Linked DNA regions of Homo sapiens. The protein of the gene in region 2 purifies or fractionates together with the protein of the main gene of each other region. This does not show direct contact. Each region holds a gene or a part of one and is shown on either strand. Other genes may lie near its edges.

Region 1 (7,000 bases), on a different chromosome or scaffold from region 2:
TTGGCTCAGAATAAAATTAACTTTGACTTAAATCTATAGTGGCTGTTAGAATATCCAATCACCTAAAAGAGCTAAAAGTATGTCCATGTAAAGAGCAAGAAATAGTGGAGGTCAGGGGTGGGAGGTAATAAGAGTGTGCTTTCTAGGTAGTGGTCATCTAGGGGAAAGTGAGGGTAGTGTGCTTTTTTTTCTTTTAAATAAAAAGACTTGAATTATTTGTTTCTTCAATCCACGTGCATATATAACTTTAAAAATAAACACCAATGTAATTTATTAACTAAGAAATAAAAATACTTGATGATCAAGCCAGTTGGAAAAATTAGATACTTAGCTTTTCAAAAGACTAAGAAAATCCATCACAAGCCACTGAGGCTTTAAAAGCATTGCCTCAAGAAAGCAGGATTTAAAAAAAAAAAAAAAAAGCTATATAAAACACTTAAGATATTGCCTTCAGTCCCCTGGGTGGCCATCCACCTTGTTTAAGGTCTCCAAGAGATTTAACATCAAGGAAGCTCCAACAGTATGCACTATCCAACTCCCTAACCTGTCTACCTGGAATCTCTGCCTTACACCCTACTGTTAAGCTGAGGCCAGTCTGGTTTAGAAGGAACCTTAACCTCTCTCCCTTCACCAGAGCTGGTTGCAGGCTGCCAGCATCCTGTGTCTCCAGGATTGGGAGGGTTTCCTAAGAAACCCAGCTATCCAAGCCTAAGTCCATAAAGTCCCAGGAGCATCAGTCACTCATAAATCTCATCTCCTACCCCAGTGCATAGTATCATCTTGACTAATCCAGCGAGAGATTATACACATACTCCTCCCTGCAATGGCCAGATGAGGGATGACAATTGGCTCCATCTGAGCAACTGTCTTCCCTTCCACTTCCCAAAACCTCTCTTCCCTTATCTCTCCCTATATTTAACTGGCTCCACTGCTTTCCTCCATCAGCTCCTACTATTTTATGATGTACTTGCATTACCAACACATTGCTTAATTCCTTTTAGCCTGATTTTTTTTTTCTTGAGACAGGGTCTCACTCTGTTGCCCAGGCTGGAGTGCACTGGCACAATCACAGCTCACTGCAGCTTGGACCTCCTGGGCTCAAGGGAGATCCTCCCGCCTCAGCCTCCTACATAGTTGGAACTACAGGTACAAGCCACCACACCCAGCTAATTTTTGTATTTTTTGTAGAGGCAGGCTTTCACCATAATGCCCAGGCTGGTCTTGAACTCCTGTGCTCAAGTGATCTGCCTACCTTGGCCTCCCAAAGTACTTGAGATTACAGGCATGAGCCACCACACCTGGCCTAGCCTGATTTTTTTCACCTATAAATAGGAGTAATATTCCTTGAGGAGAGAGACTACCGGGCCATCTCTGCATTCTCCGTAGTGCCTAAACTCAACATGCACTGAAATATTCACCAAGTGATTAAACAAATGCACCTAAAACTACAATTCCAAGAAGGAATCCTTGGTCAATAAACTCTCCTATTCCTGGACTCTCTGACCTAGAACAACCTTGAGGTACAAGACAAGGCCATAGGTCCACAACCCCGGGGAACCAGAAGATACAGCAGAAGCTGTCACGATGCAGATGGAAAGCAGGACATACCTGGAAGGAAGTGGGAATACAGACGAGGTTCAGATTCTCTTGCTTCACCCTTTCAGCTGTGGAAACAAAAGCCATATTGGCAGTTTTTCACTCTCCTTACTTTATTCTTCTTGTCATATGTGTTTGCTCGAAACCAACAGACAAGGGAAGGTCTATTTCCCAAAGACAGCTGCCTTTCATCCTGTGTCCCCCTCCTTGGTGGGAAAGTTGGTGACTGTACCTCACACATCAGAAGATAGGGACACAAGAAAGCCTGGAGAGGTAAGTACTGACCACAGAAAGCAGTGTCAGTGTTTGCCATTGTTATGTGCCTGACAATATTCTAAGAACTTTGTATATATGAACTCTTAATCCTAACAACCCAAAAGGTAAGTTAAATTATTTTCCGCATTTTGCAGATAAGGCAACTGAGGTTCAGAGAGGTAATGTAACTCGGTAGTTATACTGCTAATAAGGGACACAGCTGGGACATGATCCCAGGCCATGTAGCCACACAGTCTTAACTCCCCTATATTGCCTCTTCTAGGAAAAAGCCAGAACTTTACTTTTGCATTTTAGTAAAAAACATACTTATTTGTAGGCCCCAGAGAGTAGCTAAAGGAGATTTATTTTTTCAATTTGGATTTGTACCTTTCAGGAAAGTTTGATTTAAAAAAAAAAAAAAGACTTCAGGAAAAAATTCGTATTAAAATTTCAAGTCTTTTTAATCACTGAGTGCATCTTGGGAGGTTTGGGTGCCACTATTATAAAATCCATAGTAACTCCTGTGCCCTGAAAGTATTCTCCAGATACTTGGTTAAGATTGAAAGGTATATAACACAAAAGCTCCTATTTGGCCAGTGAGAAGGCTTCCAGAAGCCATCACACCAGCACTAAAACCACTCCTTGATAACAAAGTGTTCCTGGACTTTACCTCCTGGGCTCTGCCCCTTGGCACCTAGAAGAATTCAGCATTCAGGCAGGCCTCTCCTCTGGGCTTTGTTCTTACAAACAAAGAGCAGGGAAGTAAAACCTGTTGAGCAGCCATAGGGGCTGATAATTCCTGAGTCTTTCCTAAGCATAGAGACACCCTAATCAGTGTGAAATGAGCACCTGCAGGAACCAGCCATCAATGGCAGGAGTCCCACATCCACTCCAGGGTCATGGACAGGGCAAACCCACTATGGCCTCAATTATCTGCCTGAGGAAGTCTGAGCTCACGCAAAGAACTCAATGGTAGAATGCCATCAACATGATTAAAATTATATTGGGACCTCAAGCTAAGTCAGCTCCTCCCCTCCAGCTGAGCAGAGTAAACAAAGGCAAGGGCGTCCTTCAAAGTTGGATGAAGAGGCCCAAGATTCCCTCTCTCCACAAAAGAGCAGAAACACTCAACTGACCTCAGGTAGTCCCTCTCTCCAGCTCTGTACTGCTGAAGCCAAAAGGGCAATGCCAAACCTGTGTGCCACTTCCTCCCTCTCCTCTACCTCCCTACCCCATCATCACACACAAAACATCCAGTAGACAGTGAGAGAGCATACCTATTCGCTGCACAGCATGGACAATTGTAGAACCACTTCCAATTCCCAGCACTTGGTTATTCTGCCAAAAAACGGGGAAGAAAAAACAAAACTTATTAATATCATATTTTACTCCTTTGTCAGCCTACTTCCTAAAGCTATAAAATTATTATGAACAGCAATCCACCAACACAGGTACAAGACAGGTACTGTGCCTATTTTATAGGAACATAAACAATGAACCTCAATGCTGTACTTTAGCCAATCCATGGTGGACAAATGTTCAACAAGGCCCTCCTCTCTTCATTTCTGACACTGTCAACACCACCGCTTCCTCCCTACATTCTACCAAATAATTGGTGCAATTACTTGCAACTGAATAGCAACTTGCGTCACCCTCACAGAAATGGCCTGCATATAAACACTTAAAGATTCCTGACATTTCAAGCCAGCAACAGTGTGTTTAAAAAAAAAAAAAAAAGAAAGAAAGAAAGAAGAAGAAGAAAGAAAAGAAAAAGATTCCTGGCCAATCCCAGGGAGGCAATTAGAAAAACACCTAAGAAAAAACAATAGAGCCTGGAGCCTGGGTAAGGGAGGAAAGCTAAGGCTTCTGGCTTCAGTGTCTTCCATAGGCACCTTCAAGTTGGTAGCACCACAAGACACATCAGGCCCACCATCTAGAGCTCTCCCAAAGTCAGCAGATAAAGGGAGGGCCTGAAGTAACCTCAAAATAATAAAGTATGTCAGCATCTGCCTAGGTGACACCAAGGGGTGCTCATTTTGCATGAGCCTGCCTCAGAGAAAATGGAAAGAGGGCAAAGGCTTAGTTAAGAACATGAAAAATAGTCTTCATCTGCAATAGAAAGGATCATAATAAATGCAGAGCACTTCCTGAGTACAAAGTACAGGCAGACATCACAATACGGAGCCTACCTACAAGCAGACCAAACAAGAAGAAACAAAGAAGGTACCTACAAGCAGACCAAACAAGAAGAAACAAAGAAGGTACCTGCAAGCAGACCAAAGAGTAAAAGCTCAGCTGAGTCTACTAGACCACAAAGAGCAAAACGAGGCCAGGGTACTAACAGTCAGGAACTAATATGCAGCTCAGTGCCTAAGCAACTTCCTGACATCTATCTCCTGCCTTTGCAAGGCAAAGCCAAGTGAACACCAAAGCGGCAGCTACCATTTATTAAGCACCTACCAAGAAGACTTATAAATGTTAATATAAAGCCAAATCTCACAACAATCACTTATGACCTACAGAGCCACTATTTCCACTTTATAGATGAGTTCAATATTGTAAGGAAAAACTTAAGACTTTGAAATGAGCAAAAGAGACTACTGGATATCCTTCCAATGGGATGCTGGAACCTGCTTGTATTGTCTGACTCTAAGAAGGTATGTGCCTTTGTCTTTAAGATATATGACGACTGTATAGAGATACACTTTAACTTGCAGAAAACTGTTAACAAAGCAAGTAAGTTTTGTTCATTGAAATGCAAATTAATAGTGTTCTGTGAGACACAATTATTAACAGATCTTCTAAATTCATTTTAAGATTTTTTTACTACATATGAGCTTACAGTTGACTTCTCCTGTTATGCTTTGAACATCTCCACCAAAACTCACGTTGAAATTTAATTGCCATTATAACAATATTAAGAAGTGGGACCTTTAAGAGGTGATTAGGTCAGAGGGCTCCACCCTCATGGGTAGGATTGGTGCCCACCCATAGCACTTCAACATCTGTCTCTCTCACCAGATGCCAACGCCTTGATATTGGACTTCGTAGCCTCCAGAAGTATAAGCCAAAACATTTCTGTTCATTATAAATTACTCATTCTCAGGTATTCTATTATAGCAGCACAAAATGGACTAAGACACCTATGAACAGGTTCTAATAACCTTTCCAGTTCCCTCATTAATTTAGTGAGTTAAATAAAATCTTTGACATATATTTGTTTTATATATGTGTGATTTTACCTGTTTTAAATATATATACAAGATATACAATATATCTTGTATATATGTTTATAATATATATAAACTATCAATGCCCCCCCACACACACACAAACTCATCTTCAAACTCCTGGGCTCATACAATCCTACTGCCTCAGCTTCCCACATAGCTAGTACTATGGGAACATGCCACCATGCCCAGCTAATTTTTTTAATTCTTTTAAAAGACACAGTCTCACTCTGCCAACCAGGCTAGTCTCGAACTCCTGGCCTCAAGTGATCATCTCACCTCTGCCTCCCAAAGTGCTGGGATTACAGGATGAGCCATTTCAATCGAATAAGCAACTTCAGGAAGTTCAATTCGCTGAAACATCAATCTATTTCAAATTTCTTAAGATTTCCAACAACTGATTAACAATTAATTTATTTGACAAAGGAAAGCCCATAGTAAAACCTTCTTTTTAGGAAGAAGACAAGTCCTGAAGGGCCCTCAGGACAAGCAGGGCCACAACTAAAATCCTTCATTCCCCACAGGACAAAGGCCATAGGAATACTTAAAGTCAGCCCCTAGGCCTCACATTAGATATGGTCCTTCTCAAAGCCTGACTACATCTATAACTAGAAAAGATTAGAAAGAATGACCAACAAGTAGAGTTACCAAAAAAAAAAAAATCAAATACTAATGTCCCCACAACCATATACATATATACTAAAAATGCTACTATAGCCTCTCCTACCTACAGAAGACTTTATCCAACAACTTTTGTGTTATTGACCTGGTGGAAACTGCTTTTACTAGCTCACAGTTCCAAAGGCACTGAATACATCAGGGGCTTGGGCTGTCAGAACAGGGCTCGCACTAGGTCAGGATTCCACCTATACCAATGCTCTCAAGAAGGCAATGTGTGTAGTAAAGTTGTTTAGCTACCTGGACAATCCCCAAAGGCAAGGACTTCAAGACAAGTAAATGATACATCACAGTACAGAAACATTCAAAATGGCTAAATATCTCACATATAAAAATCTTCAAGGAATGAGAAAATGTCTTATCAAGGCCTATGTCTGAGTGTGGAAAAACTCAAACTTTTTCCTCTGCTCTCACACCACAACAATCATCAACACAGAAGACTTCTGTGATCAAATGTATGGGGATTTCTCCCCGTATCCCAAGCAAGCAATCTACTCTGCAGCAGACACCAGCTGGGTATCCTCCAATTCAATTTCAACACTCTCTACCTGGAGATACCATAAGGTTCCACTGGTTGAGGGCTCAGCTCCCAAGATTGCCTCCTCCTTCCTACCAAATGCAAGTCCAGGCCTCCAGAACTTCTGACTTGACAGCTTCAAGTTGGAGTTTCCACAACACTCTCTTTGGGTTTGATTAACTTGCTAGAGTGGCTCACAGAACTCAGGGAAAACATGTTTACCAGCTTATAAAGGCTATGATGAAGGATATGGATGAAGAGATGCATAGGTAAAGGCATGTAAGAAGGAGCACAGAGCTTCCATGCTCTCTCTAGGCACACCATCCTCCAGGGACCTTCACATGTTCTGCTCTCCAGAAGCTTCCAAACCCTGTCCTCTCGAGCTTTTCTTTTTCTTTTTCTTTTTTTTTTTTTTTTGAGACTTTATTGAATAGGTATGATTGGCTCTTGGAAAAGACCAGGAATTGCAAGGGCCTAGAAATGTGACTGAACAAAAAGGGCATGATCCAATACTAGCAGACTGACTGGGGAAACCCTGCAACGGCTGTCTGTTCAGATTCTTCTTCACCTGCAGCATTCCTTCCTCCAGGGTATGGAACAGGAACCCTTCTGAAATGGGGATCTTATGACGTACAAACAGACAACATAGGTCACAGAATTTCTTTACAGCCAGCTCCAAGACAGAAAAGCATTGGGGAGAGAAAGGAGCAAGTGGAAGGAGGGA
Region 2 (8,029 bases):
AATTAGCCAGCCATCGTACCACAAGCTTGCAATCCCAGCTACTCAAGAAGTCGAGGCAGGAGAATCGCTTGAATCCGGGAGGTGGAGGTTGCAGTGAGCCAAGATTGCACCACTGCACTCCAACCTGGCTGACAGAGCAAGACTCCATCTCAAAAAAAAAAAAAAAAAAAAAAAAAAAAATCACTGGGTTTACAAGTTTATTAAAGATAGCTTGAATGATTGTTGCCCCATTTCACTTGCATTTTGAAGGAGTCATTGTTTTCTCTAATTTTAAATTAATATACAGTCATTTCTGTGTTTTTTTGCAGAAAGTAAAATTACTCATTCTTATTCATATCCACTTAACCTGCAGAAGGCCAATGTAGTCCGCTGGGAGTCCTCAATAAGGATCACTGCTTTACCCATCACTTGGGCTGGGCATTATTAAGATACAGTGATGGGTAAGGAGAAAACAGAAACGCAAAAGACCGTAATGGGTGGTGAGAGAACAGTACCAGGTTTGGGAGAGACCTGCGCAGGCTGAGGTGTAAACTACCAGAGTGTGAAATGGTTGCAAGATTAAGTTACGATTATGAGGAGTGTCCTCTTGGGAAGTCAAAAGTAGTGTCTGCTGGGCACAGCCCCAGTTTACATTTGGAGATCAGCTAACACCTGTGAATTATTTTACTGCCCCCTTTCACTTTTAAAAATGTCCCAGTTTAGATAATGTTACGTGGCCACTCCATATTTATAAAGCCCAACTAGATTTTCATACATTGGCTAATGGTCTTAAGCAACTAGGTATACATAGTTCTATTAATGCTTGATATTGAGACTGGATTTGGTAGTCAAGAATTGCTATGAAGGATGTTGAGACATTCCTTAATGTGGGAATCACTCCCATGCCACGGTTTGGTCCAGCACACATACAAAAAAAAAATTGTTTTTAAATTTAAAAATTGCCCCATTTGTGGCAACACATCTGTTTAGATATTTACAATACTGAGGGGCAAGGGAAACACACCTTTAAACTATATTAAGATAAGAGACTTTCATTTCTTTTTTTTTTTTTTTTTTTTTTTTTTTTTTGAGACGGAGTCTCGCTCTGTCGCCCAGGCCGGACTGCGGACTGCAGTGGCGCAATCTCGGCTCACTGCAAGCTCCGCTTCCCGGGTTCACGCCATTCTCCTGCCTCAGCCTCCCGAGTAGCTGGGACTACAGGCGCCCGCCACCGCGCCCGGCTAATTTTTTGTATTTTTAGTAGAGACGGGGTTTCACCTTGTTAGCCAGGATGGTCTCGATCTCTTGACCTCATGATCCACCCGCCTCGGCCTCCCAAAGTGCTGGGATTACAGGCGTGAGCCACCGCGCCCGGCCTTCATTTCTAAGATGTCTGGGAAATTTAAAGAAATCTAGTTGATTTCTGTAGGGAGGAAACTTCCAAAGCACTTAGATGGTAAAGATTAAGGGCAGCAGAAATAGAAACTGTTAATGAGACCATGTAAGAAATTTTGCTTGGTCAACCCGGGCAATGTAGTGAAACTCTGTCTCTACAAAGGGTTGTTGTTGTTTTTTTTTTTTTTGAGATGAAGTCTCGCTCTTGTCCCTCAGGCTAGAGTGTGATGGCACAATCTCGGCTCACTGCAACCTCCGCCTCCTGGGTTCAAGCGATTCTCCTGCCTCAGCCCCCTGAGTAGCTGGGATTACAGGCGCCTGCCACCACGCCCGGCTAATTTTTGTATTTTTAGTTGAGAAGGGGCTTCACCATGTTGGCCAGGCTGGTCTAGAACTCCTGACCTCAGGTGATCCACCCGCCTCGGCCTCGCAAAGTGCTGGGATTACAGGCGTGAGCCATAGTGCCCAGCCAACAAGGTATTTTAAAAAGTAGCCGGGCATGGTGGCGGGTGCCTGTGGGAGGCTGAGGTGGGAGGATCGCCTGAGCCCTGGCAACGCTGCAGTGAACTGAGATGGCACCACTGCACTCCAGCCTGGGCGACAAGGGCAAAACTCCGTCTCATAAATAAATTAATAAGTAAATAAGAAACCCAAAATGCGTATCTCTTATTCTGCCACTTTGGATTTACCTACATGTATCAGTATTCAGCAAAACTCCGTCTCATAAATGAATAAATAAGGAACCCAAAATGCAAATCTCTGTTCTGCCACTTCGGATTTACCTGTATCAGTATTCCGTGCTCCTGCACCGAAATGTCGCTGATCCTCCCAAGCAAGTAAACTGAAAATCTTAGTTCTAATTTCCTAAGGACTACAATGTTAGGACTACATGTTAATATCAGAACATGAATGAATAAACAATAGAACATAACTAGTTATATTCGCCAGGCGCGGTGGCTCACGCTTGTAATCCCAGCACTTTGGGAGGCCGAGGCGGGCGGATCACCTGAGGTCGGGAGTTCAAGACCAGCCTGGCCAACATGGAGAAACCCTGACTCTACTAAAAATACAAAATTAGCCGGGCATGGTGGCGCATGCCTGTAATCCCAGTTACCCGGGAGGCTGAGGCAGGAGAATCGCTTGAACCAGGGAGATGGAGATTGCAGTGAGCTGAGATCGCGCCACTGCACTCCAGCCTGGGCAACAAGAGCGAAACTCTGTCTCAAAAAAAAAAAAAACTAGTTATATTCATAGCCTTGATTTTGTTTGCATATGTTCCTAATGCTATTTGTAAACAAATCCCAGACATCAAGAAATGGATTTTGTTAATAGGAATTTCTTCAGATTTTAGGAAAATCTGAAGAAAAATAACTTCCGGATCTTCCTATCAACACATCCTTTATTGTGTCCCCCCCTCTCTCTTGCTTGTGATAGCTGTGGTGGGCTAAATATATTCCAGCACTAATACCCTATCCTAGCCTTCATGTCAAGTGTTCACGATTCTTAAATTTTACTCTTCTAGTGCATACAACAGTTACTGGAAAATGCAGATTTAAATTATTTGAAACAATGATTAAATTCTGCTCCTGTGCTCCAAGGGGCTTTTACGTTACCTTTTATTGAGTTAATAAAAATGGAAATAGTTTTCAATTGGTGCAGTTTCTAAACTTCTCAGCAAAAATCACTAATCCAGGCTAATGGGAAGAGAAAAGCAGCAGCAGGGTTTAGTTAGAACTGAACTTTAAGATATGCTGAAGGAAAAAAAATTTCTAAAAGTGTTAACAAGGGGAGGTCCATGGAGACCTTAATAGCTAAAAACCGTTGTAATTTAATGTATAGAAATAAATACTCTAAACCATTTTAGAGTCTTCATTCTCAGGACTACCTCACTGTGTTTATACAGTTAATATGCACTAGCTAAGACTAAAGTATTTGTCCAATTCTTATTTAAATTTCCCCCTAGACTGGTAGGGTCTTAAAGTAATGATATTTTAACTACAGTCGGTTTATTACAGGTGACCTAACGGTGCCTGTTGTGCCTTATAAAGGCCAAGACTTTCAATTATCCCTAATAAGTATACAATAGGATACCCATTGTTTCCAAGTGCTTTTAAATTCTTGACGCTGATGAGACATTTGCATCGTGACCAGCCACCAGTAAAATCTTTTAAGCCACGTTTTTTCTGCTTTTCTTGGGCACTCTTTTTTTTTTTTTTTTTGAGACGGAGTCTCACTGTTGCCCAGGCTGGAGTGCACTGGTGGAATCTCAGCTTACTGCACCCTCCACCTCCTGGTTCATGCCATTCTCCCACCTCAGCCTCCTGAGTAGCTGGGACTACAGGCGTGCGCCATCACGCGCAGCTAATTTTTGTATTTTTAGCAGTATTGGTTGCGCCATGTTGGTCAGGCTGGTCTCGGACACCCGACCTAAAGTGTCCCGCCCGACTGGGCCTCCCAAAGTGCTGGGATTACAGGCGTGAGTGCTCGGCCTCGGGCACTCTTTACTGAGCAACAACAGGTTGGAGAAACTAGTAGGGCTTCCAGTTTTTTGGTAAACCTATTGTTTAAAAGTCTGCCTGGTCATCAGATTCCAGTCGTCTTGTTTCTGCCTCAGATGATAAAACTCTAAAATTATAGGATGTGAGATCTGGAAAATGTTTGAAAACACTAAAGGGGCACAGTAATTATGTCTTTCGTTGCAACTTCAATAGCATGTATATTTTACACACTTTCATGACCATTAATCATCTCCTAAAACTGGGGAAAGCTCTCTAAAACCTCCTTAAGAGTAACCTTATCCGTTACCCTATTCCACCAACCTCTTTGTCCTTTTCTGTTTCAAGCAACTTTGAGATACCGACTTCTCTATGGAAGCTTAAGCCGTAGATGCTAAAACAAACGTTTGCTCGTTACTCCCAGCAGAGCACCGGCTTTTAAAGGACCTCAACAGACACGTTTCTTAACCTTTACGAAACTTTTCCAGGGGAAACTTAAACCAGGAATTTTACAATCTGGCATAAATTCTGTCACCCGCCCCGTGACTCCATCGCCACACATGCCACCTGGCTCCACACCACAACAAACAGGAGGGAGCGGAACCCATGCAAAGCAGGAGCTTCCCCCGTTTCCGGCGTCTGGGTGGATCTACGTTAGCTGCCGTTTAGGCAGCTTACGCGTCAGGTGTGGGCCTAAGCCTGCAGCTAAGGTAGGCATCCGCAAATCTAGTCCTTCTCTGTGACAATTTCCAAAAAGAAATGGTTTTTGAAACAACGATCCACTGCTTCCCACACTATCCAGTTAGGTCCGGGACAGACCCTACCCAGCTAATGCACTCACCCAAGAAGGCAGTCGCTTTCGCATTTGAAGGGCGGGGCGAAAAAGACCGGAAATGAACATTGGCGACTTTTTTGCGCAGGCGCAGATGGCCGTCTCCCATTGGTCATCTCGGCTCGGTAGTGGTAGGAGGGACTTCCTTTGCACATGCGCCAGGCTGCTTTTCCGGCTTTGTTGGAGATTGACGCGGCAGTGCACACCTGCTGGTACGAGCAAAAGTAGCCGACAGGCCAGAGTTTCCAGTTTCGGTGGCTTCGTAGGCTTTTAGCTTCTGAAATCCGCTAAAAGCGGCGGTTCATTCATCTTCAAGTACCTAGCCTGACTGGTAGGGCTGCTCAGCATTCCGAAACATTTCGACCTGGGGAGGGGGGCGGCGGTGAAAGAATACTTTCTGTAGAGAGTGCCCCTCGCGTCGCCCCTGCTTTGAAGGCTTTATGTATTAACGGAATGCCGAACATTTGTGTCCTACTTGCTGACAGCGCACAGGATCCTTCTAACAGTATTTCTCAAGTACTTAACAAAAAGATGAAAACTTGAAGTCCAAGCCGTGCTGCTGATTCCGTCTCACAGTTTAAAGACTGTCCAGAAACTTTAAGCTTTCAAAACTGTACATTTTAAAATCCTGTGCGTTTATCTTCATTTTGCTGGGCAGAAAGCCAAAGTACTGGACTGCCTGGTTCAGGGCTGAACGCCTAGTACACCTGCTAACTTGGAGCTTCAGAGCCATGGCAACCAAGGAGTCAAGAGACGCCAAAGCACAGTTGGCCCTCTCCTCATCGGCCAATCAGAGCAAGGAAGTGCCTGAAAACCCAAACTATGCTCTCAAATGTACTCTTGTGGGACACACGGAAGCAGTGTCATCAGTTAAGTTTAGTCCTAATGGAGAATGGCTAGCAAGTTCTTCTGCTGATAGGCTAATCATAATTTGGGGAGCATATGATGGAAAATATGAGAAAACACTCTATGGTCATAATTTGGAAATATCGGATGTTGCCTGGTCATCAGATTCCAGTCGTCTTGTTTCTGCCTCAGATGATAAAACTCTAAAATTATGGGATGTGAGATCTGGAAAATGTTTGAAAACACTGAAGGGGCACAGTAATTATGTCTTTTGTTGTAACTTCAATCCGCCATCCAACCTTATAATCTCGGGATCTTTTGATGAGACTGTAAAAATATGGGAGGTGAAAACAGGAAAGTGTCTCAAGACTTTGTCTGCTCATTCTGACCCAGTTTCTGCTGTTCATTTTAATTGTAGTGGGTCCTTGATAGTGTCAGGTAGCTATGATGGCCTCTGTAGAATCTGGGATGCTGCATCAGGTCAGTGTTTAAAAACGCTCGTTGATGACGATAACCCTCCTGTCTCTTTTGTAAAATTTTCTCCAAATGGTAAATACATTCTCACTGCAACTTTGGACAACACTCTTAAACTATGGGATTATAGCAGAGGCAGGTGCCTGAAAACATACACTGGTCATAAGAATGAGAAATATTGCATATTTGCCAATTTTTCAGTTACTGGTGGAAAGTGGATTGTGTCTGGTTCCGAGGATAACCTGGTTTACATTTGGAACCTTCAGACTAAAGAGATTGTGCAGAAATTACAAGGCCATACAGATGTTGTGATCTCAGCAGCTTGTCATCCTACAGAAAACCTCATCGCATCAGCAGCATTAGAAAATGACAAAACAATTAAACTGTGGATGAGTAACCACTAATCCCTTTGAAAATCAAGTAGTAGAGCCAAGTTGGCCAAAAAACTTGGATATTTAAAAAGACGGTTTCTTTTAATTTTGGCAGTTTGGTATTTTAAAAATTGTCTATTGTTAAATTTTGAGATTCATACACTACATTTACAAAATGAGATAGTTGAAAAAGCACATCTAGAATTCAGCTTCTGACTACCAATCTTTTTTGAGCAACTTTTTGTAATTTTTATGGATTTATGTCACTTTTATTACAGGGATATATTGCATAGTGGTGAAATCTGGGCTTAGTATACCCTCACCCAAATAGTATACATTGTACCTAGTAAATACTTTCCCATCTCTCACCCCACTCCCACCTTTGAAGGCTCTAGTGTCTATGATTCTGCTCTCCACGTCCAGGTGTACACATTGTTTATCTCCCACTTACGAGAACATGTGGTTTTTGACTTTCTGTATCATTACTTCACTTAATGGCCTCCAGGTCCATCCATGTTGTTGCAAAAGATAAGATTTCATTATTTTTTTTTGGCTGAGTAGTATTCTGTGGTGTGTATGTGTGTGTGTGTATGCATATATGTGTATGTGTATGTATATAAGTATATACACCACATTATCCAGTCATCTGGATATGTATATAAGTATATACACCACATTTTCTTTATCCAGTCATCTCTTGATGGACCCTTAGGTTGGTTCCATAACTTTGCTATTACGAATAGTGCTGCGATAAACAGCACTATTATGAATAGTGCTGCGATAAACAGTGCAGGTGATTTTAAAATATAATTTCCTTTGGGTAGATACCTACTAGTGGGATTGCTGGATCGAATGGTAGTTTTTAGTTGGAAAATCTCCATACTGTTTTCCAGAGGTTGTAAAATGTACATTCCTCCCCACAGTGTATAAGCTGTGCCTTTACTCTGCATCTTTGCCATGATTCTTTTTGAGACAGAGTCTCTGGTGCCCAGGCTGGAGTGCAGTGGCACAATCTTGGCTCACTGCAACCTCTGCCTCCCGGGTTCAAGCAGTTCTCATGTCTCAACATCCCAGGTAGCTAGGATTACAGGCGTGCCACCATGCCTGGCTAATGTTTCTATTTTTAGTAGAGACAGGGTTTCACCATGTTCGAGGCTGGTCTTGAACTCCTGGCCTCAAGTGATCCACCTGCCTCGGCCTCCCAAAGTGCTGGGATTACAGGCATGAGCCACTGTACCCAGCCATTTTTTGACTTTTTAATAATAGCCATTCTAACTGGTTTAAGAGAGTATCTCATTGTGGTTATATTTTGTATTCCTCTGATGATTAGTGATGTTGAGCATTTTTTTGTGTGTGTTTGTTGGCCACTTGTATGTCTTCTTTGAAAACTGACTTCTAATCTTGAGGCCTATTAATAATTTCATTTGTCTGTCACTGGACAATTTCTCATTCCTCTCAGTGACTATCCTAGAGGATCAGTGTATTTGAGAAATATTTAGAAGTAAAGTTGACAGGACAGGATGATTGATTAAAAGAGGGGAGCAAGGGAATTTGAAATAATTCCAGGGTTTCTGGTTTGGGAGATCAGATGAACAAGTGCATAAGCCTGGGATGCTGGTGGAGGACTGGAGAGACAT

The links. The genes of interacting proteins can lie anywhere in the genome.
Region 1: the proteins of WDR5B (region 2) and RPIA purify together in Homo sapiens (affinity purification with mass spectrometry; 2 studies listed by BioGRID and IntAct, with this or other methods). This does not show direct contact.

What each region holds. Positions count from the first base shown.
Region 1 is NC_000002.12:88,694,673-88,701,672, reverse strand, and holds part of RPIA (ribose-5-phosphate isomerase), read right to left. Parts: intron 3,190-7,000; coding exon 3,129-3,189; intron 1,665-3,128; coding exon 1,609-1,664; intron 1-1,608. UniProt on the Homo sapiens protein: Catalyzes the reversible conversion of ribose-5-phosphate to ribulose 5-phosphate and participates in the first step of the non-oxidative branch of the pentose phosphate pathway.
Region 2 is NC_000003.12:122,412,932-122,420,960, reverse strand, and holds the start of WDR5B (WD repeat-containing protein 5B), read left to right. Parts: upstream 1-4,898; 5' UTR 4,899-5,432; coding exon 5,433-6,425; 3' UTR 6,426-8,029. UniProt on the Homo sapiens protein: May function as a substrate receptor for CUL4-DDB1 ubiquitin E3 ligase complex.